Linked DNA regions of Homo sapiens: regions 1 and 2 are each linked to region 3. The links come from fine-mapping of genetic effects on gene expression. A gene starts in region 3. Each other region holds a variant in brackets. All regions are shown on one strand. Distances are between the middles of the regions. Region 1 overlaps SLC5A10 (solute carrier family 5 member 10). Region 2 overlaps TOP3A (DNA topoisomerase III alpha). Region 3 holds the start of SHMT1 (serine hydroxymethyltransferase 1).

The links. PIP is the estimated chance that this variant, and not a neighbour inherited with it, causes the effect. A credible set is the group of variants that fine-mapping cannot tell apart.
Region 1: its variant is the best candidate, but not a certain one, in a credible set for the expression of SHMT1 in prefrontal cortex (GTEx, PIP 0.65).
Region 2: its variant is the best candidate, but not a certain one, in a credible set for the expression of SHMT1 in whole blood (INTERVAL, PIP 0.50).

Annotation. Positions count from the first base shown.
Region 1 is chr17:19,011,857-19,019,856 of GRCh38, forward strand. SLC5A10 (solute carrier family 5 member 10) reads left to right here. Exons shown (of 15, transcript NM_001042450.4): 10 at 1,554-1,661; 11 at 3,193-3,343; 12 at 7,567-7,735; 13 at 7,857-8,000. Among named protein-coding and RNA genes, the nearest start is that of FAM83G, 11 kb to the left of the region's middle. RefSeq lists an enhancer at 2,228-3,217. The variant G/C (reference allele first, on the strand shown) is at 3,227.
Region 2 is chr17:18,284,439-18,292,742 of GRCh38, forward strand. TOP3A (DNA topoisomerase III alpha) reads right to left here. Exons shown (of 19, transcript NM_004618.5): 11 at 8,207-8,304; 12 at 6,404-6,589; 13 at 6,119-6,248; 14 at 969-1,082; 15 at 704-869. Among named protein-coding and RNA genes, the nearest start is that of TOP3A, 26 kb to the right of the region's middle. The variant C/T (reference allele first, on the strand shown) is at 5,154.
Region 3 is chr17:18,358,430-18,366,592 of GRCh38, forward strand. SHMT1 (serine hydroxymethyltransferase 1) reads right to left here and starts at 5,121. Exons shown (of 12, transcript NM_004169.5): 1 at 4,943-5,121. RefSeq lists a silencer at 4,746-5,215.

The sequences.
Region 1 (8,000 bases), 650 kb after region 3:
GGGGTGTGAGACCCGCCCTTCCCCATGGGCTGGGCATCTAAGAAGGGACGTATCAGAAGGGGGCTTTGGAGGGGGCAGTCTACAGAGGGAGCACCAAGTCACAGAAGTGTCAATGCCAGCCGCCCCTGCTGCTGCTGTGTTGCAACTCTGCCTGCCCCTAACCAGCCACTGCAGTGCTGTCAGTCAGCTTGTTTCTGAACTCCCCCGTAATCATCATCTTCTGGTTAGCTCTGCACTCTGGGCCCTCCTGAAAACCCCAGAAGCAGGGGCCAAAGCTTTCTAGAAAGTCTTTTATGGGAGGAAAAAGAGAATGTGGGTCAACTCTCTTCATCCCTACGTATCACTAGGCCAAAGTCAGCCCCACGACTGCTAACACCAGCAAATCTCACTGAGCAGAGCAGTGAGGAGAGCCCCACACCTCAGGGCTATGGAGGTAGGCCGGGGTTCTGCCCCCACACAGGGCAGGAGGCCGAGGGATGCCTGGATTTAGGGTTCAGTCGGGATCTGGCCTGAGCCTGGGAAATTCGTGAGTCCTTTCATTCAACAGATGAGCCGTGTGTACCACCCCAGCCATGGGGGAGATAGCACGAGGCAAACCCCGTCCTCTCAGGACTCACCTGCCACAGGGAAGTGGCAAGAACCAAATAAACATGTCCAAGTCCTCCCAGGGATGACAAGGGATGAGGGAAAGCGATGTGGGGCAAGGGGACAGACGGAGAATGGGGTGGGAAGGACAGACCGGAATTCGGGAAGGAGGCAGTCCTCAGGCGAGGCCTGGGGCAGGCCTCAGGTGGGAGCGAGGAGGGACTTGTGGGGAGGGGCCAAGGGTCTGGATCACCCAGGGTCTTGTAGACTGTTGAGAGGCTGAGTGGCTGGAGAGTCCTGGGCATCAGCTCAGCTCTCTGCAGCAGGAAATAGCCTGGCGTAAAGCTTGGACCCCAGGGTTGGAGACAGGGGTGTGGATGGGCTCTGACCCCACGTCCTAAGCCAGGAAGTTGGAGCAGGCAGGCCTCGCCAGCCCCTGAGCTTTCACCACAGCCCTGCTGCATGAGCTGCAGCTGTGTGACAGCACACTCAAGCCGGCTGCCCATGGACAGACGCGACTTGTTGACTTGTCGCTGAGTGAACACAAAGCCCAGGGAACAGGTTGAGGGCCTGGGGCAGGGCCCATCCTGCAGGCCTCTCTCTTCTCTAGCCTCCATTTCCCCCTTTGGGGAGAATGGCTGGGGACGAGGGGGGCAAGGGAGGCTCAGGCCCCAGGTAGACTCTAATGGCGGACCTCACACAGCAGAGCCAACGGCAGGTGAGCCCCCTGGCCAAGAAGTAGGATCAGGAAGAAGAGTTATGATGGAGAACAGCAGGGAAAAGGATTTTCAGAGGCCATGCCCTCCCTGTGGCTCAGATTGTGAAACTGAGGCCCAAGGCCAAATGGTAACAGGTCAGAGGCATTGATGGAGCAGGTCTGGGCCAGGCTCCTGCCCCCAGCCCTATCTTGCCCACCCCAGGTGCTCATGTCTATGAGGAGAGACACCAAGTGTCCGTCTCTCGAACAGATGATGTGGGCTGCGTGGTGCCGTCCGAGTGCCTGCGGGCCTGCGGGGCCGAGGTCGGCTGCTCCAACATCGCCTACCCCAAGCTGGTCATGGAACTGATGCCCATCGGTGAGGCTGTGTGGGTGGGGGTCTGGGTGGAGGGCGTGGGGTTGGACTTGGGGCCCAATGAGTATGGGGACTGTGGAGGCTGCCACTCACTGGCCAAGAAATTTGGGGCATGTCACTTCCCTGCTTGGAGCCTGGGTGTCCTCATTTGTAAATTGGAGATAATGGCATCTACCCACCCCTCAGCGTTGTTGCTGGGATTAAACATAATGACACAGGGAAAATGCTGGGTGCAGGCTTGGCCATGCTGTAGTTCCCACCTTGGGCCTTCGCTTTTCTCTTCTGTTCTGGGCAAGGGGACTCGCTAAGCCCTCCAGGGCTGACACCGAGCCATTGTTGGGCCACAGTCCCTCTCTAGGTCTTGAGTTCCCTCTCTAAGAAATGGATGGAATAAGCTCCAAGTTCATCCATCTCCATGAGCAAGACAAGGGAGTGGGTGGAGAAATGTTTTGGGGAAAACTGTGATTTGACTCACTTTCCTTTGGGCTCCATCCCAACCAGCTTCTGACAAGTGAACAGAGAGCCCAGAGACACCTGGAAGTCACACAGCCAATCAGACACAGAACCGAGGCCAGACAACCCAGCCAGGCAATAAATGGCTGTGCCTTCCGGGCAGGGGGGCCTATGTCAGGCTTATCCTAGGACAGACGGGCAAGAGTTTGTAGAGGTAAAGGAGGTGCTTAAAATTGCAGGAGTTCTTGTAGACAGACTTGAACTCATCCCCAGAGAGGGGAGGCGACCAGCCTGAAGCCACACAGCACAGAGTGGGCAGTTGAGCATCCTTCCACCTTCCTTAGGGCTCCTCACCCTCAGGCCCTCTTGAGCCCACAACTCCCAGAAGGCCTTTCACAGCAATGCTACCCGCACCTCCTAGGGGAGCCCTCACTCCCACTCTGGAAAACCACAGAGCCAAGGAGAGAGGGGATCCACTATGCCTGCTGGGTCCTGCCATGCACAGGAAGTGGCGGAAAATTCCAGAGACTGGGGCACTGCATGCTGGGGTGAGGTGTGCATCTTGCCCAGGGTGTGGCCTTCAAGCAGAGGCCCCGCCCAAGCCTTCCTCACCAACCCCACCGCACCCCAAAGTCCTGCCGCTGGCCTGCTGTGAATCCCTGGGCAATCTCTTCACTTCTCTGAGCTTCCATTTCCTCATCTGTCAAGCGGGTTAATCATGCTTTCCTCGGACGAAGGCATGGGTGTGAAAGTGCTTTGTCAACGCCAGGCTCTGCAGAAAGGACAGGCCTGATCGCAGCCTCAGCATTATGAGTAATTATGGTCGGGCCTAGGGTTGCCAGCAAGCCTAGGGCTCAAGCAGCCAGCTCCGAAGTCCCCACGGTTTGTCCTTGGCCTCCCCAGTCTCCTCATTCTGGGTCTTGCTCACCTCAAACCTCCTCAGCTTCTCTCCCTCCCCGCCCTCTGCCTTGGAGGAGCATGCAAATGGCGGGCGGGCCTCAGGCATTAGAGCCCAGGCGGGAGGGGTTCCCGGGGCTGTCTCAAGGCCGGACAGGGTCACACATCCCCCGTCCCACCCCAGGTCTGCGGGGGCTGATGATCGCAGTGATGCTGGC[G/C]GCGCTCATGTCGTCGCTGACCTCCATCTTCAACAGCAGCAGCACCCTCTTCACTATGGACATCTGGAGGCGGCTGCGTCCCCGCTCCGGCGAGCGGGAGCTCCTGCTGGTGGGACGGTACGGGGGTGGGGGCCAGTACGGGGGTGGGGGAACACTACAAGGGTGGGCGCCCGCACTGACTTTGAGGGATGAGCCGGAGTTTGCCACTTAGAGAAAGGTGGATGCCAGGAAGGAGGGAAGAGAAGGGCCAGTGTACCCCATCCATACCACCTCTCACATTGCTCTCCTGTCCACCTCTGTGTGATCACAGCCCTCATCTGGGATGCATCTCCACCCTTGAGCTGGATTCCTTCTGCAGGGGCCAGCCCTCCCTCCCCAACCATGCCACAGATCTCTCTATCTCCCCGAAAACCTGGGCCCCCATTCCTCCTGATGGTTCCCAGCTGCGCCACAGAGGGCCCCCGGGCCAGCACTCAGGACTGGCCACACTTGGGCTGCCACGTCCCTCAGCCTCCATGGCCCTGGCCCTACTGAGCTCCAGCTTGTTTCCTCCCAGCCCAGCTTGTCCCCTCCTTTTTCACCTCGATGACTCATGCTGATCTTTCTGGACTCTGCCTGTGTCCCCTCCTCCGTGCAGTCCTCCCTGAGACCCTCAACCAAGGAATGAGCCTCTCTCCCCTTCATACCCCAGGGACGCTTGCCAGATTCTTCCCACAGCACATGTGGCCATTACAGGCCAAGAGACCTCCCCGACACCCTTCTCCAAATATCTGGGCGCTTCATGAGGACCGGGGCTGTGTCTGGAGAACAGGTGGTGTTTGGTTACATGAATAAGTTCTTTAGTGGCGATTTCTCAGATTTTGGTGTATCCATCACCCGAGTGGTATACACTGTACCCAATGTGTAGTCTTTTATCCCTCACACCCTCCCAGCGTTTCCCCTGAGTCCTCAAAGTCCATTGTATCATTCTTTTTTTTTTTTTTGAGACAGTCTCGTTTTGTCACCCAGGCTGGAGTGCAGTGGTATGATCTTGGCTCCCTGCGACCTCCACCTCCCGGGTTCAAGAGATTCTCGTGTCTCAGCCTCTTGAGTAGCTGGGATTGCAGGAGCGCACCACCACGCCTGGCTACTTTTTGTATTTTTAGTAGAGACAGGGTCTCACCATGTTGGCCAGGCTGGTCTCGAACTCCTGACCTCAGGTTATTCATCCACCTCAGCGGGCTGGGATTACAGGTATGAGCCAGTGTGCCCAGCCCATCCTATCACTCTTATGCCTTTACATCCTCAGAGGTTAGCTCCCATGTGCACGTGTCTATTTGCGCCCTCCCTGGCCCTCCAGTCCCACCCTCTTGTTGTCCTCTGAGCAGTGTGGCTCACACTCTGCTGCTCGGGGGTCCAGCCTTCTGGCACAACAGAGCACCCCCTGGCCAGGAGCCCAGGGCACCCATCCTGGGGGTGGGGTCTCCTCCAGAGCTCCAGGCAGCTGTCCCAGGGATGCAAAATAGTCAGGCTTCTGTTGGAAGGGCCCTGTTGGGACACGCCAGAGGCGGGTGCGAGTGAGCTCATCCACGGGCTCACAGGATTCTCCAAAACAAGGAGCCTCCCACCTCTCACTGGGCAGGACACTTCCATGTCCCTGTGTCCTGGGCACTTGGCCCCTTGACCACTTCTCCCCCTCTGGCTCCCCTGCCTCTCCTCAGAAGCTGTGTGGCCTGGGGAAGACCCTGCCCCTCTCTGACCATGTGTCTCCTCTGAGGCCAGACCTTGCTCTAAGCCCCTCCATGCTCCAGCATCCTGGGCCCTGGGAACTGGATGCCCTCCTGCCACCCAGTGTGTGACACTGGTAGCCCCTGTACCTGCCCAGTGGCCCTCATGTCCCCTGCCCACTACTTCCTGGCCTCCTCACCCAGACTCCCACCTGCAACCAAAAGTCTTGACCTGGCCTCCTGCTGCGCCAGCTCACCCAGCTGCCCGTGCCCTTGACCCTCCTTCCCACCTCTTCTGCCAAGTCAACCCCCGCCCCTAGCCCTGCAAGCCTGGCAGTCGGCCTCCCTGAGGAGCAAGGCACAAGGCTGCGTGGTGCAGGGCAGGTTGCTCACCCTCTCTGGGCCCCAGTTCTCTCAGCTGCCAGCTGGATAGAGCAGAAAGGGCCCCGTGCCAGGTGTCAGGCTGGCCAGCTCAACTTCCCGTCCCTCTTACAGCACTGGGATACCCTCAACACCCCCAGCCCCTCAAAGCCGTCTCAGCTTCCTCCTGCCCGAAACACCACCATTGGAGCGGTATCTCCTAGGCCTCGTGGTCATGGATCTCTGGTAGGGTGAATGGCCTGACAACAGTCTCTGTCAGGGAGAGGCGAGGCTTACAGAGAGAAGACCAACAGCCCAGAGGCCTGGAGAGGAGGCCATCGCAGGGCCGGGTGCAGTACCATGCCGGTGACCCTGATGGCTCTGTCCAGCTGAGCAGAGGCTGGAGGAGCCGTCACAGGCTGGGGGAGAGCGATGACCCGCCCCCACTCCCGTATGCCTGCCCCAAGCCCCCACACCTCAGTCCACTGTTCCGCCACTGCCCCCCTGCCCCACTCTCCCCTGTCTGTGTTCCCGGCTGTTCAGTCCGTAAATGGGGCCCACAGCCTCCTGGAAACCCTGTGCAGGACTCGGAGAGATCTCAGACACCCCTCCTTGAGATGTTCCACAGTAACTGTGGCTGCAGCCCAGGGAGATGCTGGAGGGCACTATCCACCCTGATGGTGGCATGGGAGGGAGTGGCATTCCAGGCAGAAGGAGCAGCCTCTGGGTTTGGGGGTCCTCTGGCAGCCAGGTAAGAAGGCTGGGTAAGAAAGCGAGGGCCTGGCTGGAGTGGCCCCAGCCCTGGCACAGAGATGCAGAGTCTGGTGTTGGGCGGGAGAGCTGTGTGCAGAGGGCGGGGTGGGCAGGCGTTAATGGAGGCCCGCCTGGGCCTTTGATGAGGGCAGCGCCCGCCTGCCTGCCTGGCTAGGGGTTAATTAGCCTTAATCAAGGTGGCACCTCCTTCCTCCACCCTCTCCCTCAGGCCTAGAAGGGAAGAAAGGGAGGGAGGAAGGCGGACAGGCGCTGAGAGGACCCACCCTAGCTGAACACATAGCCTCTGTCACCCCTGCCACCACAGCCAGGGTTCCAGCGGGTCACCCACCACCCACCTTGGGGGTGAGGAATGCCAACTGACCCAGGACACAGGGGTGAGGTGCTCAGCCAGGGAGGAGCGGATGGATGCCATGCCCCAGCTTCATCCCCTTAGCTGGGTCCCATGCCCCTCAAGGCTCGGGGAGGGGGTGCCTCCTCCTGAAAGCCCTCCTAGATTGATGTTTCCTCTGAGCTGCTCCAGCCCAGTCCGAGTGTAGGTAAGAGGCTCATCTGTTTTCTTTGCTGGACTCTGAGTGCTGGGCAGGCACCAGGTCCCACTCATCGCCGAGTTGGGGATCCTAGGGTAGTGTCCTACGCAGGTGAGCACCTCACCAGTGGTTTGTTGGATGAACAAGTGTAGCATGTGCCTGTTGTAGAGGGGCTCTTGGCCTAAGGGAGAGGCAGGCAGGAGCTGACACGCAGGGGACAGGAGGGGACGGGCTCATGCTGGCCCAGCAGGGCTCCGGCTTCACAGCTGGGGAGTATGGGCTCTAACCCCAACCCACACCTCTGGCTCCAAACTTTGCATCCTTAGTAAGCAGGTTGCCCTGTGAAGGATGTGCAGCACAGGGCTGTCGGGGTGGGGATGTGCCAGCCAGAGGTCCCAGCTCCCACAAATGCCGGCCAGTGTGAAAAATCCTAGTGTCTTCAAATAACCACCAGGAAGTCAGTCTGGCCCAGATCGGGGGGCAGTGGTCATTCATGCACTCACCAAATGCTTAGTAAGCACCTACTATATGCTGGGAGACACAGCAATGAACTAAAGAGATGAGGCTCCTGCTCTCCTGGTGCTTCCATTGGGAGGGGAAGACAGGCAGTAAACAAGTAGACACCCAGGTAAATGTGCATGTAGTGACTGGGACAGGTGCTTTGAAGGAGAGACAAGAGGGAGCTCCATGGCGGAGCTCCAAGGGCTGGCTCCGCAGAGACCCCAGGGCAGGGAAGGAGCAGACAGCACTTAGAGTCAGGAGCTGCACCTGCAGGATCCAGGGAGCCACCAAAGGGTTTGGAGCAGGGCAGGACTGGCCAGGTCACTGGTGGTGTGGACCAGAGTCCAGGGAGGAGGCTGGAGCTGGGGTAGCAGGGGAAAGATTAGAGAGCAAGTCTTAGTGACCAGGGGAGGTGGGAGAGAGCTGAAGAGCCTCCCACGACGACCGCTGCCTGCCTTCCACTCGCCTGCAGGCTGGTCATAGTGGCACTCATCGGCGTGAGTGTGGCCTGGATCCCCGTCCTGCAGGACTCCAACAGCGGGCAACTCTTCATCTACATGCAGTCAGTGACCAGCTCCCTGGCCCCACCAGTGACTGCAGTCTTTGTCCTGGGCGTCTTCTGGCGACGTGCCAACGAGCAGGTGGGCGTCGGCGGTCTGCTCTCCCTGGGGACGTGCCACAATTTGCTCTTCCCTGCTGCCTGTGGGGGGAGCCTTGGTCCTCCTCCCGTAGCCCCACATGCCCTGCCTCCCTCCTCCCCAGGGGGCCTTCTGGGGCCTGATAGCAGGGCTGGTGGTGGGGGCCACGAGGCTGGTCCTGGAATTCCTGAACCCAGCCCCACCGTGCGGAGAGCCAGACACGCGGCCAGCCGTCCTGGGGAGCATCCACTACCTGCACTTCGCTGTC
Region 2 (8,304 bases), 74 kb before region 3:
CCTTCTAATCACAGGGTTGGTTCCCTGACAACCAGACCGATCCCAAGGCTACCCAGGAGCCCTTGGCCACTAGTCATCTCATTTGTATACAACAGACACAGCACTTAAAAAATTCCAAGGGTATCAGAAAATGAAGTCCAAATATATATATCTTATTATAAATCATAATATCACAGGTAGAAAACACATCATTTCTAACAAAATACACACATGCTGCTTGCTAAATATCCACCTCTAAATGCTCCAGAAAACAAATGGATCACACTCCAGCACTTGGGTTTACTGATTTAAAAGACTTTGTTGCCTAACTCAAGATAATTAATGTGTCATGTAATTAAAGCAGAAAAAAAAAAGATAATTAAAATCAAGAGAATGGTATTTCTAAAGCCAATAGTTCAGAATAACTGAAGGAGACTGTTCCGATTACTGTTTCTATACTGACAAAGCTCTATGGAGAGTTGTAAAAGAACCCAGAGAAGAAAGTCCAAAGAAAAGGGGTATGTGGAAAACCTCCAGGCCAGGAGGCCACTGGTGAGGATGAATCTGGCAGGGTTATAAACTCTGACTGGCCCAGATGCGGTGGCTCACGCCTGTAATCCCCACACTTTGGGAGGCTGAGGTGGGAAGATCTCTTGAGGCCAGGAGTTCAAGACCAGCCTGGGCAACATAGTGAGACCCCTCTGTATTTCTTTTAAGGACTTACTTCTTTGCTTTAGCCACCGCTTCAATGAAAACCTGCTTGTATTTCTGCACTTGCTGCCTTAGAACCACAAATTTGTCCTTTTTGCCATCACAGATCAGCTTCAGATCAGCTTCCAGTTCAGCCCGGAGGTCAGGCTTAGACATTTCATAGCCCATGGAATCATAACCTGCAGGGAGAGAGTCGAGCTCAGTGAGGGCCCACCTGAGACCCTCAGGGACTTGGGCGACACCACCCACTACCCACTGCAAGCTCTGTCCTCCCTTACCTTCCACAAGTCCCATGCCCAGGTGCCCAGGGAGGAACCGCTTGTCTGGGGTGAGGCCCACGTACATCCGGGCTTTGATGGTCTCGATGTGCTCCGCATGAGTGGCATCCGTACCTGGAAGCCACTTGCTGGTTACTCTGAGGTAATACAGACAACAGCTCCACCCGGGTGGCGCATGGGCACCTTGCTCACCCCGGAATCCCTCCTTTGCCTGGACAGCCTATGCAGGTAAGATGCCTTCATTTCATTCCCATATAGCTCATTCAAGAAATCACAATGGCAACCTCAACTCTCTTGTTCCCTCACATCCCATTACTCAGGAAAGCTGTCAATTCCAGCTTCAAAGCTCTTTTTAAAAATTCTCTTCCCCATGTGTCCAAGCCATACTTGCAGCTTGTGTCCCTATTTCTAGTCTCTTCCTCTACCCTAACCATTCTTTAAGCTGTGGCCAAAGGGACCTTTCAAAATGTAGCTCTGCCATGAAGGAAATGCAAATTAAAACTGCAGTGAAGGCTGGGAGCAGTGGCTTATGCCTGTAATCCCAGCATTTTGGGAGGCCAAGGTGGGCAGATCATCTGAGGTCAGGAGTTCGAGACCAGCCTGGCCAACATGCTGAAACCCTGTCTCTATCAAAAATACAAAAATTAGCAGGGTGTGGCGGCACGCACCTGTAGTCCCAGCTGCTCAGGAGGCTGAGGCAGGAGAATCACTTGAACCCAGGAGACAGAGGCTGCAACGAGCTGAGATGGCACCGTTGCACTCCAGCCTGGGTGATGGAGTGAGACTCTCTTTAAAAAAAAAAAGAAAAAAAAAAGGGCTGGGCGTGGTGGCTCACGCCTGTAATCCCAGCAATTTGGGAAGCCGAAGCGGGCAGATCACGAGGTCAGGAGATCAAGACCATCCTGGCTAACACGGTGAAACCCCGTCTCTACTAAAAATACAAAAAAAAAAAAAAAAAAATTAGCCGGGTGTGGTGGCGGGCACCTGTAGTCCCAGCTACTCAGGAGGCTGACACAGAAGAATGGCATGAACCTGGGAGGCGGAGCCTGCAGTGAGCGGAGATCGAGCCACTGCATTCCAGCCTGGGCAACAGAGCGAGACTCCACCTCAACAATAACAACAAAAAAACAACCAAAAAAACCAGTGAAATAGCAGTTCAGACCTACTGGCAAAATCAAAAAGAGAGATAATACTAAGTGTTAGTAAGGATGTGGATAAACTGGAATCCTAGTGCCTTGCTGGTGGAAATGAAAAACGGTACAGCCACTTCAGAAAAGTTTGGTGGTTCCTAAAAATGTTAAATGTAGAGTTACCAAGTAAACCAGCAATCCCACTCCTAAGTCTACCCAAGAGAAATGAAAACACATATCCACACAAAACCTTGTACAAAACTGTTCACAGCAGGATTATTTATAATAGCCAAAGAGTAGAAACAACTCAAGTGTCCATCAACTGCAACCTCTGCCTTCCGGGTTCAAGTGATTCTCTTGCCTCAGCCTCCCGAGTAGCTGGGATTACAGGCGCCTGCCACCAAGCCCAGCTAATTTTTTCATTTTTAGTAGAGAAAGTGTTTCACCATGTTGGTGAAGCTGGTCTCGAACTCCTGACCTCAAGTGATTGGCCCACCTTGGCCTCCCAAAGTGCTGGGATTACAGGTGTGAGCCACTGTGCCTGGCTCTTTATAGGAAATAACTAAAGTAGGCAAATCTGGCCAGGTGCAGTGGCTCACTCCTGTAATCCCAACACTTTGGGAGGTTGAGGTAGGAGGACAGTTTGAGGGTGCAAGTTCAAGACCAGACTAGGCAACATAGCAAGACCCTGTCCCTACATAAAACAAAAAAGTCTGGCTGGGCATGGTGGCTCAGGCCTATAATCCCAGCACTTTGGGAGACCGAGGCGGGTGGATCATTTGAGGTCAGGAATTCGAGACCAGCTTAGCTAACAGTGAAACCCCATCTCTACTAAAAATACAAAAATTAGCCAGTGATGCGCACCTGTAGTCCCAGCTACTCAGGAGGCTGAGGCAGGAGAATCTCTTGAACCTGGGAGGCGGAGGTTGCAGTGAGCTGAAATCGTGCCACTACACTCCAGCCTGGGTGACAGAGTAAGACTCTGTCTCAAACAAAACAAAACAAACAAACAAAAAACCCAACAAAAAAATTAGCTGGGTATGGCAACACATGCCTGTAGTCCCAGCTACTTGGGAAGCTGAGGTGGAAGGATCCCTTGAAACCCAGGGTTCATGGCTGTGACCTAGCCTGGGTGACAGAGTAAGATGCTATCTCTCCAAAACAAATTTTTTTAGGGGCCGGGCATGGTGGCTAACACCTGTAATCCTAACACTTTGGGAGGCCTAGGTGGGCGGATCATGAGGTCAGGAGTTTGAGACCAGCCAACCTGGCCAACATGGTGAAACCCTGTCTCTACTAAAAATAACAAAAATTAGCTGGGTGTGGTGGTGCGTGCCTGTAAGCCTAGCTACTCGGGAGGCTGAGACAGGAGAATCGCTTGAACCTGGGTGGCGGAAGTTGCAGTGAGCAGAGATTGTGCCACTCCACTCCAGCCTGCAGCAACAAGAGCAAAACTCCATCTCAAACAAACAACAAAAAAAACAAAAAAACTGACTGTGGTGATAGCTGCACAACTTTGTGAATATGCTAAAAAATGTACATTATACATTTGAAGGAGATAAACTGTATGGTATATAAATAAAGCTGTTAATAATTATATATATATATATATAAATTTTTTTTTTTTTTTTTTTTAGATGGAGTCTCTCTCTGTCACCAAGGCTGAAGTGCAGTGGCACAATCTTGGCTCACTGCAACCTCCACCTCCCGGGTTCAAGCAATTCTCCTGCCTCAGCCTCCTAAGTAGCTGGGATTACAGGCGTCAGCCATAACACCTAGCAATTTTTTGTATTTTTAGTAGAGATGGAGTTTCACCATGTTGTCCAGGCTGGTCTTGAACTCCTGACCCCCTACCTTGGTCTCCCAAAGTGCTGGGATTATAGGTGTGAGACACAATGCCCAGCCTGTTAATAATCTTTTAAAAATATTATTATTATTTTTTTGTAAGTGTACCTCTATGTGGTTCCTTTACTTAGAAATCCTGGAAGACTCCCTGCTGACCATGTACCACCATCTAAGCCCTTCAACTGGGCAAGCCAAGGCCCTGCAAAGTCAGGCTTGGATCATCTTTCCAGGCTCACCTTCTATGGCCACCCCCCTCCAATCCAGCTACAGCAGGCTTCTGCTTTCCTGCTCCTGTGCCCTTCCTCAGGCCTACCCTGCACTGGGCTGCCCTTCGCTGATCCAGAAGTCTTACTATGAGGTTTTGGTCCAGCTCAAATGCCAGTCCACCCATCACATTTTCTTCCCTGCCTACTCCCTGCAGAACTATTACATTGTATTCAATGTGTTGGTTTGGTTCTTCTGTTAGATTGAGAACTTAAAAAATGAGGTCTTATTCCTCCTTGTGTCCCTGGTGCTTAGTCCAAGCTCTCACTCTTGTGGGCCTCACACTTTGTACCTCAGTCTCTGCCTTCCGGGCTCAAGTGATCCTCCCACCTCAGCCTCCCTACCTATAGGCATGCACCTAATTTTTTGTAGAAATGTTTTTTTTGAGATGGAGTCTCACTCTGTCACCCAGGCTGGAGTGCAGTGCTGCGATCCTGGCTCACTGCATCCTCCACCTCCCGGGTTCATGCAATTCTCCTGCCTCAGCCTCCCAAGTAGCTGGGATTACAGGCATGTGCCACCACGCCTAGCTAATTTTTGTATTTTTTTAGTAGTGATGGGGTTTTGCCATGTTGGCCAGGCTGGTCTCGAACTCCTGACCTTAGGTGATCCACCCGCCTTGGCCTCCCAAAGTACTAAGATTACAGGCATGAGTCACCGTGCCCAGCCAGATCTGTTTTGTTGTTGTTGTTGTTGTTTGTTTGTTTGTTTTAAGACAGAGTTTTGCTGTTGTTGCCCAGGCTGGAGTACAATGGCACAATCTCAGCTACAGGTGCCCACCGCCATGCCTGGCTAATTTTTGTATTTTTAGTAGAGACAGAGTTTCACCATGTTGGTCAGGTTGGTGGTCTTAAACTCCCTACCTCAGGTGATCCACCCAGCTCAGCCTCCTGAAGTGTTGGGATTACAGGCGTGAGCCACTGCGCCCAGCAAGATGGGGTTTTAC[C/T]GTGTTGCCCAAGCTGGTCTTGAATTCCTGGGCTCAAGTGATTCACCCATCTTGGCCTCCCAAAATGCTGGGATTACAGGTGTGAGCCACCACACCCAGCCTTCATACATTTTTATCAAATAAATCATGACGGGTGAACCTCTACTAATTTTACCTAAACCTGCAGGGTTTCTGGATGTCCTAGTGATGGTCAAGGACTTCACGTTGAAGCACTGCTTCCCAAGTCATAGGCCTAAGAAACTCCCTTTGTGGATGACGCAGCTGCTTATGTAACACATGCCCAGGGAGCTCTGCTTCCCCTCCACTGTGCTGCAGGTATTCCTGGACTAGGTTTGCCAGAGAAAGCCCTTGAGAGCCTTGACAAAAACGAATGGAGGGGACAGCAGATTAGTTACAAGGCCCTACCTGCAAAGCTTGAGCCATGGGACTTATCAGCAGGGTCCTGGCACATACATGAGGCCAGCGTGAGCAGCCTGAGTGAGCAGTGTGGGTTCAGACCTGCAGAGACAGCTGCCACCCTCACCCAATGCTCCACATGGGAAGGAGGCTCAGGGCTCTATCTGACACTTCAAAATGAAGATAGATTTTATGATAACTGTCCCAAGTTTTAATTGTTGGTTCCTTACATGCTGTTCTTATTCGAAAGAACAACAAATCCTCATGTGGCCAATGGGTGCTCCCAGTTGGGCCCTCAAAGCCATGGGAAAAGTCTCTGTTACTATGTGGACAGCACAGTGCATGGTTTAAGAGCACTGACTGTGGAGTTATTCAGACCAGGTTTTAATAATACACACTTTGTGAACTTAGGTAAGTTCTTAACCTCTCTGAGCCTTATTTCAACTATAAAATGGGATAAAGATATAGCAGCTGCATTAGAGAATGGTTTGAAGACTAGAGGAAACCTGTACCTGGTACACTGTAAGCCTTAGCTCAAGAGATGCGAGTTACCCAGAGGAGCCACTGACCAATGCCATGCTTCTCCATGAGGGCAATGAGGTCGGCCTCGGTGAGCAGCTTGGGTGGGCTGGTCTCCCCGTCCACCATCTCCACGGTGCTGGGCTGAAAGTGGGATCCTTGCTCATAGACAGGGAGGATCTACAGGGAGCGGCAGGTGCAACAGTCAGATGATTCCATCAGCACACTCAGGCAAAAAATAACCTCATTTCAAGGAACATGATCCTGCTCCACTAGAGAACTCAGGGCTCACAACACAACTGTCCTCCCTCTCACTGGGGACCACTCTTTATTACCTTGTCACTCCAGTGATCATATGGATACACATCCAGATAGTTTCGGGCCAGAATCATGAGGCCATGGGCCACAAAGCGTTCCTGAGCGATGTCGATCTCCACTGTGGTCTCCTGCCCCTGAGCATCCTGGGAGCAGCAAGCCAGGAAATGGCGAACAATAAACTCGTACAGTCGCTGTTCATCTCCCTAGGAAGAAAAGAGGAGTACGAAACTCCCCCTAGAATATCACCTCTCAAGGACAGGAGCATCACTGGTAGCCTTAGCCTAATGTCCTGCACAGAAGAGGCCACACTGCTCCTCAGGCCCTGCACTAACATGGAGTGCCAGGCAAACAAGTCCTGGGGAGAGGATGGGTTTAGGTTGACACATCTCACAACTCAAATCTGGCAAAGATAAGCAAAGGAGTCATCTTCCCTTCCAGACTGGGAAGTGGTTCTTTGATGTAAACGCAATCTAAGCAGAAAACAAGATGAAAGCGTAAGAAGTTAGCAAGACACTCCTCAAATACAAGAGACAGCAACATTGCACCTGGTGGCCTTAGCCCAACTTCATGCACACATTTAAGCAGTAATTTTCAGGGTAATTTTCAATTAGGTAATCAATGATTTAGTGAGCCTCAGTCTATCAAAAGCCCATGAGACATTTATACACATATCCAATAATTCCCCTTCTAAGGATTTCTTCAAAGGAAATAACTGGAGAACCACAAAAATATTTATGTCTACAAATGTTAACTATAGTATCAAAAACACACAAAAAACAGATTTGGCAAAATAAATTATGGCACATCTTTGTAATTGTTAAATATCATGCTTAATAGGCAATTTTACCCCCTTATAAACTTTTGTATTTCTTAATTTGTCTAAAATGAACATGTAATTTTTTTTTTTCCGAGACAGAGTCTCACTCTGTCGCCAGGCTGGAGTGCAGTGGTGCAATCTCGGCTTATTGCAACCTCCGCCTCCTGGGTTCAAGCGATTCTCCTGCCTCAGCCTCCTGAGAGTTGGGACTACAGGCACATGCCACCCCGTCCAACTAATTTTTCTATTTCTAGTAGAGATGGGGTTTCACCATGTTGGCCAAGATGGTCTCAATTTCCTGACCTCGTGATCTACCCGCCTTGTCCTCCCACAGTGTTGGGATTACAAGCATAAGCCACCGCGTCCGGCCATATTTTTAAAATCAGAAAGAATGTATTTTATTAAAAGAAGGAGGAGAAGAACAAAAGACTAAGATTTCCCCAGCTTTGTGAGAAGCCTACAGATGTAAACAAGCATTTCCCCAACTTTGTGAGAAGCCTACAGATGTAAACAAGCCTAATGGCTCCTGTGCCTGCAGAGCCTGCCCCTGGCTGAGGAAATGACTGAGACAGACAAGCAGAGCTGTGTGGGAAACTGCAGTGACAGGGGGTGGCACGACTGGGGTGGCAGCAAAGTTTCAGGAGGCAACCAAAACTGAGCCAGCCTTGGGAGGATGGATAGAATTCTCTAGTTCCAGGGACTGGGAAGGCCACAAGGCTCACAGTGGAGGTGGGGGTCTGCACAGGGGTTGCCTATGAAGGACTAGCAGGGAAGCAGCAGGAGCTGATGGAGAGTGGGATGTGGAGCTGGATTAAGACGGGGGCCCACCACGGGGAGGGATGAGGCGGTCTTTATCAAAGCCAGGCAGAGGATTGTGAAATGAGAGAGATCTCAAAATCACTTGTTTTTACAATCACAGCCCACAGAGTAAATTCAAACCTTACTACTGACCCCCAGCACTTCCCTATGGGTTCCAGCAGGCAGTACATTCAGGGAAACCAACCTGTAAGTTGTTGGTGTATTTGGTGGGGTGAATGGGAGGGTGAGCTTGGTCAGACTTGTTCCCATTGCGTGGGGTGGGACCACCCCGCTCTAGAATGC
Region 3 (8,163 bases):
CAGTGAGCCAAGATCACCACTGCACTCCAGGCTGGCAACAGAGCGAGACTCTGTCTCAAAGAAAAGTAAAATATCTTAGCCCAGGGCTGCACAGAAAGTTAGCCACAGAGGCAGGACTCGAAACCCCAAAGCACATGCTCTAAGTAATCCACAGAGTTCCTGTGAAGCTGTTAGTTAAAATATGTACTTGGGCTGGGTGTGGTGGTTCATGCCTGTAATTCCAGCACTTTGGGAGGCTGAGGCAGGAGGATCACTTGAGCCCAGGAGTTCAAGACTGGCCTGGGCAACATGGCAAAGCCCCATTTCTACAAAAAATACAAATTATTAGCTGGTCGTGGTGGCATGCATCTGTAGTCCCAGCTATTCAGGAGGCTGAGGTGGGAGGATCACCTGAGCCTGGAAGCTAGAGGTTGCAATGAGCCGTGATTGTGGCAGTGCATTCCAGCCTGGGTGACAGAGTAAGACCCTGTGTGTGTGTGTTTTTTTCTTTTAAATAAAAAAAGGACTTGTTTGAATATAAATCTTCCTAAAGAATTACAGGTTGGGCTGGGCCCAGTGGCTCATGCCTGTAATCCCAGCACTTTGGGAGGCCAAGGCGTGCGGATCATGAGGTCATAAGTTCGAGACCAGCCTGGCCAACATGACTAAAAATACAAAAATTACCCAGGTGTGGTGGCAGGCACCTGTAACCCCAGCTACTTGGGAGGCTGAGGCAGGAGAATCGCTTGAACCCGGGAGGCGGAAGTTGTAGTGAGCCGAGATCACACCACTGCACTCTAGCCTGGGTGACAAAGCAAGACTCTGTCTCCAGGGGAAAAAAAAAAAAGGGCCTGGTATGGTGGCTTATGCCTGTAATCCCAGCACTTAGGGGAGTCAAGGCAGGAGGATCCTTTGAGCCTAGGAGTTCAACCACAGCCTAGGCAACACAGTGAAACCACGTCTCTACAAAAATTTAGAAATTAGGCTGGGCAAGGTGGCTCACATCTGTAATCCCAGCACTTTGGAAGGCTGAGGTGGGCAGATCAACTTGAGGCCAGGAGTTTGAGACCAGCCTGGCTAACATGGTGAAACCCTGTCTATAGCAAAAATATAAAAAATTAATTGGGTGTGGTGGCACACACCTGAGGCATGAGACTTACTTGAGCCTCAGAGGTGGAGGCTGCAGTGAGCCGAGATTGTGCCACTGCACTCCAGTCTGGGTGACAGAGTGAGACTGTGTCTCAATAAAAAAAAAAAGGCCAGGTGCAGTGGTTCACGCCTGTAATCCCAGCACTTTGGGAGGCCAAGGCGGGCAGACCACAAGGTCAGGAAATCAAGACTGTCCTGGCCAACATGGTGAAACCCCATCTCCACTAAAAATACTAAAATTAGCTGGGTGTGGTGGCGCCCGCCTGTAATTCCAGCTACTCAGGAGGCTGAGGCAGAAGAATGGCTTGAACCCAGGAGGCGGAGACTGTAGTGAGCAGAGATCACACCACTGCACCGCAGCCTGGCAACAAAGCAAGACTCTATCTTAAAAAAAAAAAAAAATTATTTGGCCAGGCACAGTGGCTCACACCTGTAACCCCAGCACTTTGGGAGGCCAAGGCGGGCGGATCACCTGAGGTCAGGAGTTCGAGACCAGCCTGGCCAACACAGCGAAACCCCGTCTCTACTAAAAAATACAAAAATTAGATGGGCATAGTGGTGGGCCCCTGTAATACCAGCTATGCGGGAGGCTGAGGTAGGAAAATCGCTTGAACCCAGGAGGTGGAGGTTGCAGTGAGCCGAGATCATACCATTGCACTCCAGCCTGGGTGACAGAGCAAGACTCCATCACAAAAAAAACCAAAAAGAAATACACAAGGCCAGGCATGGTTGCTTACACTTGTAATCCCAGAACTCTGAGAGGCTGAGACGAGAAGATCACTTGAGCCCAGGCGTTCAAGACCAGCCTAGGCAACATGGCAAAACCCTGTCTCTAAAAAAAAATACAAAAAATTACCCGAGCCTGGTGGCGCACGCCTGTATTCTCAGCTACTCTGGGTGGCTGAGGCAGGATGATCACTTGAGTCCCGGAGGTTGAGGCTGCAGTGAGCCCAGATTTTCCCACAGCACTCCAGCCTGGCCAAGAGAACAAGACCCTGTCTCAAAAAAAAAAAAAAGAAAAGAAAAGAAAGAAAGATGCAATAAATGGGTGCAAGGCTACTTTAGACTGGGTCAGGGAACGTCCCGGAGCTGAAATCTGAGCTGTGGAAAGGAGCCAACCATGAAATCTGGGATGAGAGCAATCTACGCAGAGTAAACAAGTGCAGAGCACCCCAAGTTCAAAGGCCAGACAAAGGAGAAAGTGTGACTGGCCAAGGGTCAGAAATCAGGCTTGCACACCTGAAGTCTGGGGAGTCACAGGACCACAAGAGTCAAGACCACCCTGGGCAACATAGGGAGACCCCGTCTCTCTAAAGAAAGAAAAAAAAGCGGTCAGGCGCGGTGGCTGACGCCTGTAATCCCAGCACTTTGGGAGGCCGAGGTGGGTGGATCACTTGAGGTCAGGAGTTTGAGACCAGCCTGGCCAATATGGTGAAACCCCATCTCTACTAAAAATACAAAAATTAGCTGGGCGCAGTGGCTCAATTCCTGTAATCCAAGCACTTTGGGAGGCCAAGGCGGGTGCATCACCCCAGGTCAGGAGTTCGAGACCAGCCTGACCAACACGGTAAAACTCCATCTCTACTAAAAATACAAAAATGAGCTGGGTGTGTGGTGCGCACCTGTAACCCCAGCTACTCAGGAGGCTGAGGCAAGATAATCGCTTGAACCCAGGAGGTTGCAGTGAGCTGAGATCGTGCCACCGCACTCCAGCCTGGACAACAGAGCAAGACTCTGTCTCAAAAAAAAAAAAAAAAACAAAAACAAAAATTAGCCAGGCATGGTGGCATATGCCTGTAATCCCAGCTACTCAGCAGGCTGAGACCAGGAGAATAGCTTGAACCAGTGAGGTAGAGATTGCAGTGGACCGAGATCATGCCACTGCACTCCAGCCTGGGTGACAGAGCTAGACTCCGTTTCAAAAAAAAAAACAAAAAAGAAAAAAGGGGGCTGGGTGCAGTGGCTCACATCTGTAATCCCAGCACTTTGGGAGGCCGAGGCGGGCAGATCACGAGGTCAGGAGATCGAGACCATCCTGGCTAACATGGTGAAACCCCGTCTCTACAAAAATAAAAAAAAATTAGCTGGGCGTGGTGGCGGCGCCTGTAGTCCCAGCTACTCAGGAGGCTGAGGCAGGAGAATGGCGTGAACCCGGGAGGCGGAGCTTGCAGTGAGCCGAGATCGCGCCACTGCTCTCCGGCCTGGGCAACAGAGTGAGACTCCGTCTCAAAAAAAAAAAAAAAGAAAATTGGGAATCTTAGGGACATCTTCATTAACATTCAGTAATACCTGGTAAGTCCCCCAGCCAACACAGCTCACTGCAACATCAGTCATTACAACATTGGATATTTCTGTAGAGGCACTGTTGCTCATGTGTGGCATGATCCTCAACGTCAGGGAAAAAGACCTAGTAAGTGAAGTCACCTGCAAGGTCACCAGCCTCCCCATGCCTCCAAATCTTACCTGGGCCTCTGTCACATAAGAGGATCCAGCCAAGGATCTGCTCAGGGAACTAACTTGTTGCACATCTTCTATCTCACACACATTTTGTGTTCTCTTCTTTACAGAAGAGGAAATTGAGGCCCAGGGAGCTAACTTGTCTAAAGCCATATAAGAGCCAGAATCTGAACAATGGTTTCTCTTCAGTTCCAAGGCCTTGTCCCAGGACATTGCACTAAATAAAAACACAATTACCCACTTCCGTTCCAAGTTCCCCCAAGTAATAAATTTACGTTATTTCTTTTCTTTTTTTTCTTTTCTTTCTCTCTCTTTCTTTCTTTTGAGATAGAGTCTCACTCTGTCACTCAGGCTGGAGTGCAGTGGCGTGATCTCCGCTCACTGCAACCTCCACCTCCCGGGTTCAAGCGATTCTCCTGCCTCAGCCTTCCGAGTAGCTGGGATTATAGGTGTGTGCCACCATGGGCAGCCAGGTTTTTTTGTATTTTTAGTACAGACGGGGTTTCACCATGTTGGCCAGGCTGGTCTCCAACTACTAACCTCAAGTGATCCGCCCACCTCGGCCTCCCAAAATGCTGGGATTACAGGCATGAGCCACCGCGCCCGGCCTACAATGTTATTTCTGCAAGAACCTAAACTGGTGTTTCCAGTCTATTCTCTGGGTAACTGCCCGATTGAAGGCCCGCATCTGTGCTGACCTCAGCTGGACCAAGGGTCACTTAACTCCCGGAATCTCGAAGCCAAGGCACCGGGCCAAGAACTTCACAGTGCAACATTTGTCTCCTAGAACAGGGGGTGGCAGATTGCGGGCAACAGGAAGAGCTCATTCCCCACAGGGATCTGGTGGCACGGGCCAAAAGTGGAGCGACCCTGCGCGCAGCCTTTAGGGGCGCAGGCTTTGAGAACCCGGGTTCTATTCCGGGCTCTGCCATTTAAGTTGCCTCCTTTCTCAGGGCCCCACCACCTTCCTCACCTGTAAAATGGGGGAAACAGTAGCACTTGACTTGCAGCTTTGTTGTGAAGGAGCTAGGATTGTTTAAATCGAAAATGCTCAACGAGAAAAGTGTTCAGTGGAGAGCTACTACTCACATCCCCGATAAGCCTTCGCATTCTTGCCAAAGGCCACGGGCCGCCACCCCATCATACCGAATGTGCCTGGAACTGGGGCGCTGCGGCTGGCCGCCGCCCGATCCCCAGCCCAGGCGCGACCCAAGCGCTCCCCTCCCGTCATTGCGGCTGCAGAGGGTGGGGTACGGCGGGGGACAGCGAGGACGCCGAAGCACCCCCCGGGCTCTGGGACGCCGCGGCCCTCGGACCCGAAGCCGCCCACCTACCGGAACACGGCCCGCGCACGTACCTAGCGACGCCTCCGTCCTACGCCGCCGCCGGTGCCACCAGTCCCAGACCCGCTGACCCAACGCCCCGCGCACCGCCGCGGGCCAGCCACGTGACCAGCCGCTCCAACCCCAAACCCCGAACTTGGCGCTGGACCGCTCGAGCTCAGGAAGGTGCACTCTGCGCGCCAGGCTTGGGCTTGGCCCCGCCCCCGGAGGCGCCCAATCAGAGAGCGCAGCCAAGCATGGGCCGCCACCAAACGCACCCGCGCTATTGGCTGCGGCGCAGCGGCGGGCAGGGCCTGTTTCTCCGGGGCGGGCCGGAGGCCGCGTAGTGCAGCTGCGCACCTGGGGCAGGGACCTGCAGAACTGACCCGCTTTGGCTGCAGGGCTGGTGTGTGGACCAAGATTTCCAGGAAGACTACACAGGGCCTTCCTCACTTAAGCCTGTCGCTTGGGCCGTGGGATTATGAGTGAATTTTGTTCATGGTACTACTTTTAGTTTGCAGGGTGGTCATTTAAAGTAGGACAAATGTGCGTCCAAACTGCAACATTATTACTCTGTAGGTGTATAATCCAAGAGCAGACACTTTATTATTATTATTTTTGTTATTTTTTATTTTTATTTTTTTGAGACAGGGTCTCACTCTGTCCCCCAGGTTGAAGTAGAGATGGGGGTCTAACTATGTTGCCTCCCAGGAGGCGGAGGTTGCAGTGAGTCGAGATCGCGCCACTGCACTCCAGCCTGGGGGACGGAGCGAGACAACGTCTCAAGAAGAATAAAATAAGATAAATAAAATACTGACACACAATAAGGACTCAATGAACATTACCTATTGTTAAGAATGATAAAAACCGGGGCCACATGTCAGGACCACCTGAGGCTGCGTCATAAATTTTTTTATTTGTCAAATGATAACAATAATTATTATAAGAATGATAAAAACCGGGCGCAGTGGCTCACCCCTGTAATTCCAGCACTTTGGGAGGCCGAGGCAGATGGCTTGAGCCTAGGAGTTCAAGACCAGCCTGGGCAAAATGGTGAAACCTTGTCTCTACAAATAATTTTAAAATTAGCTGGGTGTGGTGGCAGTCGCCTGTAGTCCCAGCTACTTGGGGGGCTGAATGGGAGGATCACTTGAGCCTGGGAGGCAGAGGTTGCAGTAAGCAATGATCTTGCCTCTGTACTCCAGCCTGGGCAACAGAGTGAGACCCTCATCATCTCGAAAAACAAACAAACAAAAAATACAAAAAAAACTTTTTTTTTTTTTTGAGACAGAGTCTTGCTCTGTCGCCCAGGCTGGAGTGCAGTGGCGCGATCTCGGCTCACTGCAAGCTCCACCTCCCGGGTTCACGTCATTCTCCTGCTTCAGCCTCCTGAGTAGCTGGGACTACAGGCCTCCGCCACCACGCCTGGCTAATTTTTTTTTATTTTTGAGACGGAGTCTCCCTCTCTTGCCCAGGCTGGAGTGCTGTGGCGCGATCTAGGCCCACTGCGAGCTCTGCCTCCTGGGTTCATGCCATTCTCCTGCCTCAGCCTCCCGAGTAGCTGGGACTACAGGAGCCCACCACCACGCCTGGCTAATTTTTTGTATTTTCAGTAGAGACAGGGTTTCACCATGTTAGCCAGGATGGTCTTGATCTCCTGACCTTGTGATCCACCTGCCTCAGCCTGCCAAAGTGCTAGGATTACAGGCGTGAGCCACCACACCCGGCTAATTTTTGTATGTTTAGTAGAGATAGGGTTTCACCATATTGGCTAGGCTGGTCTTGAACTCCTGATCTCAAGTGATCCATCCTCCTCGGCCTCCCAAAGTGCTGGGATAACAGGCAAGAGCCACTGCGCCTGGCCAACATAGTGAGTGTTTTTGTTTTTTGTTTTTGTTTTATTTATTTATTTATTTGAGATGGAGTCTCGCTCTGTCACCCAGGCTGGAGTGCAGTGATGCGATCTTGGCTCCCTGCAACCTCTGCCTCTCTGGTTCAAGCAATTCTCCTGCATCGGCTTCCCGAGTAGCTGGGACTACAGGCGTGCACCACCATGCCCAGCTAATTGTTCTTTTTGTTTGTTTGTTTGAGACGGAGTCTCGCTCTGTCGCCCAGGCATGAGTGCAGTGGCTCGATCTTCGCTCACTGCAATCTCCACCTCCCAGGTTCACGCCGTTCTCCTGCCTCAGCCTCCCGAGTAGCTGGGACTACAGGCGCCCGCCACCATGTCCGGCTAATTTTTTATATTTTTAGTAGAGACAGGGTTTCACTGTGTTAGCCAGGATGGTCTTGATCTCCTGACCTCTGATCCGCCTGCCTCGGCCTCCCAAAGTGCTGGGATTACAGGCATGAGCCACCGCGCCCGGCCGTGCACAGCTAATTTTTGTATTTTTCTCACAGACAGGGATTCGCCATGTCAGCCAGGCTGGTCTCGAACTCCTGACCTCACGTGATTCACCTGCCTCGGCTTCCCAAAGTGCTGGGATTACAGGCACAAGCCACCGCGCCCGGCCTGTTGTTTGTTTTTTTGAGACGGAGCCTCTCTCTGTTGCCCAGGCTGAGGTGCAATAGTGTGATCTCGGCTCACTGCAGCTTCCGCCTCCCGGGTTCAAGCAGTTCTCCCACCTCAGCCTCCCAAGTAGCTGCGACTACAGGCGTGCGCCACTACGCCCTGCTAATTTTTGTATTTTTAGTAGAGACGAGGTTTCACTATGTTGGTCAGGCTGGTCTCGAACTCTTGACCTCAGATGATCTGCTCGCTTCAGCCTCCCAAAGTGGTGGGATTACAGGCATAAGCCACTGTGCCCAACCCGTGAGTTTTTTAATATCCAAAGTAAGATTTCTGGGTCAAGCTTTTAGTAAATATTGCCATATTGCTTTCTACAAGCATTGTAACAATTCACACTCCCAGCAACAATTTAGGGAAATACCCATTTCCCATTTCTTCTCCAGCACTGAATGCTTCATTTTTTATTTTTTTATTTTTTTTAGATAGAGTCTCTGTTGCCCAGGCTGGAGTGCAGTGGCGTGATCTTGGCTCACTGCAATCTCTGCTTCCTGGGTTCAAGTGATTCTCCTTCTTCAGCCTCTCGAGTAGCTGGGGTTACGGGCATGCACCATGACACCTGGCTTTTTTTTTTTTTTTTTTTTTTTTTTTGTATTTTTAGTAGAGACGGGGTTTTGCCATGTTGGCCAGGCTGGTCTCAAACTCCTGACCTCAAGTGATCCACCTGCCTCAGCTTCCCAAACTGCTGGG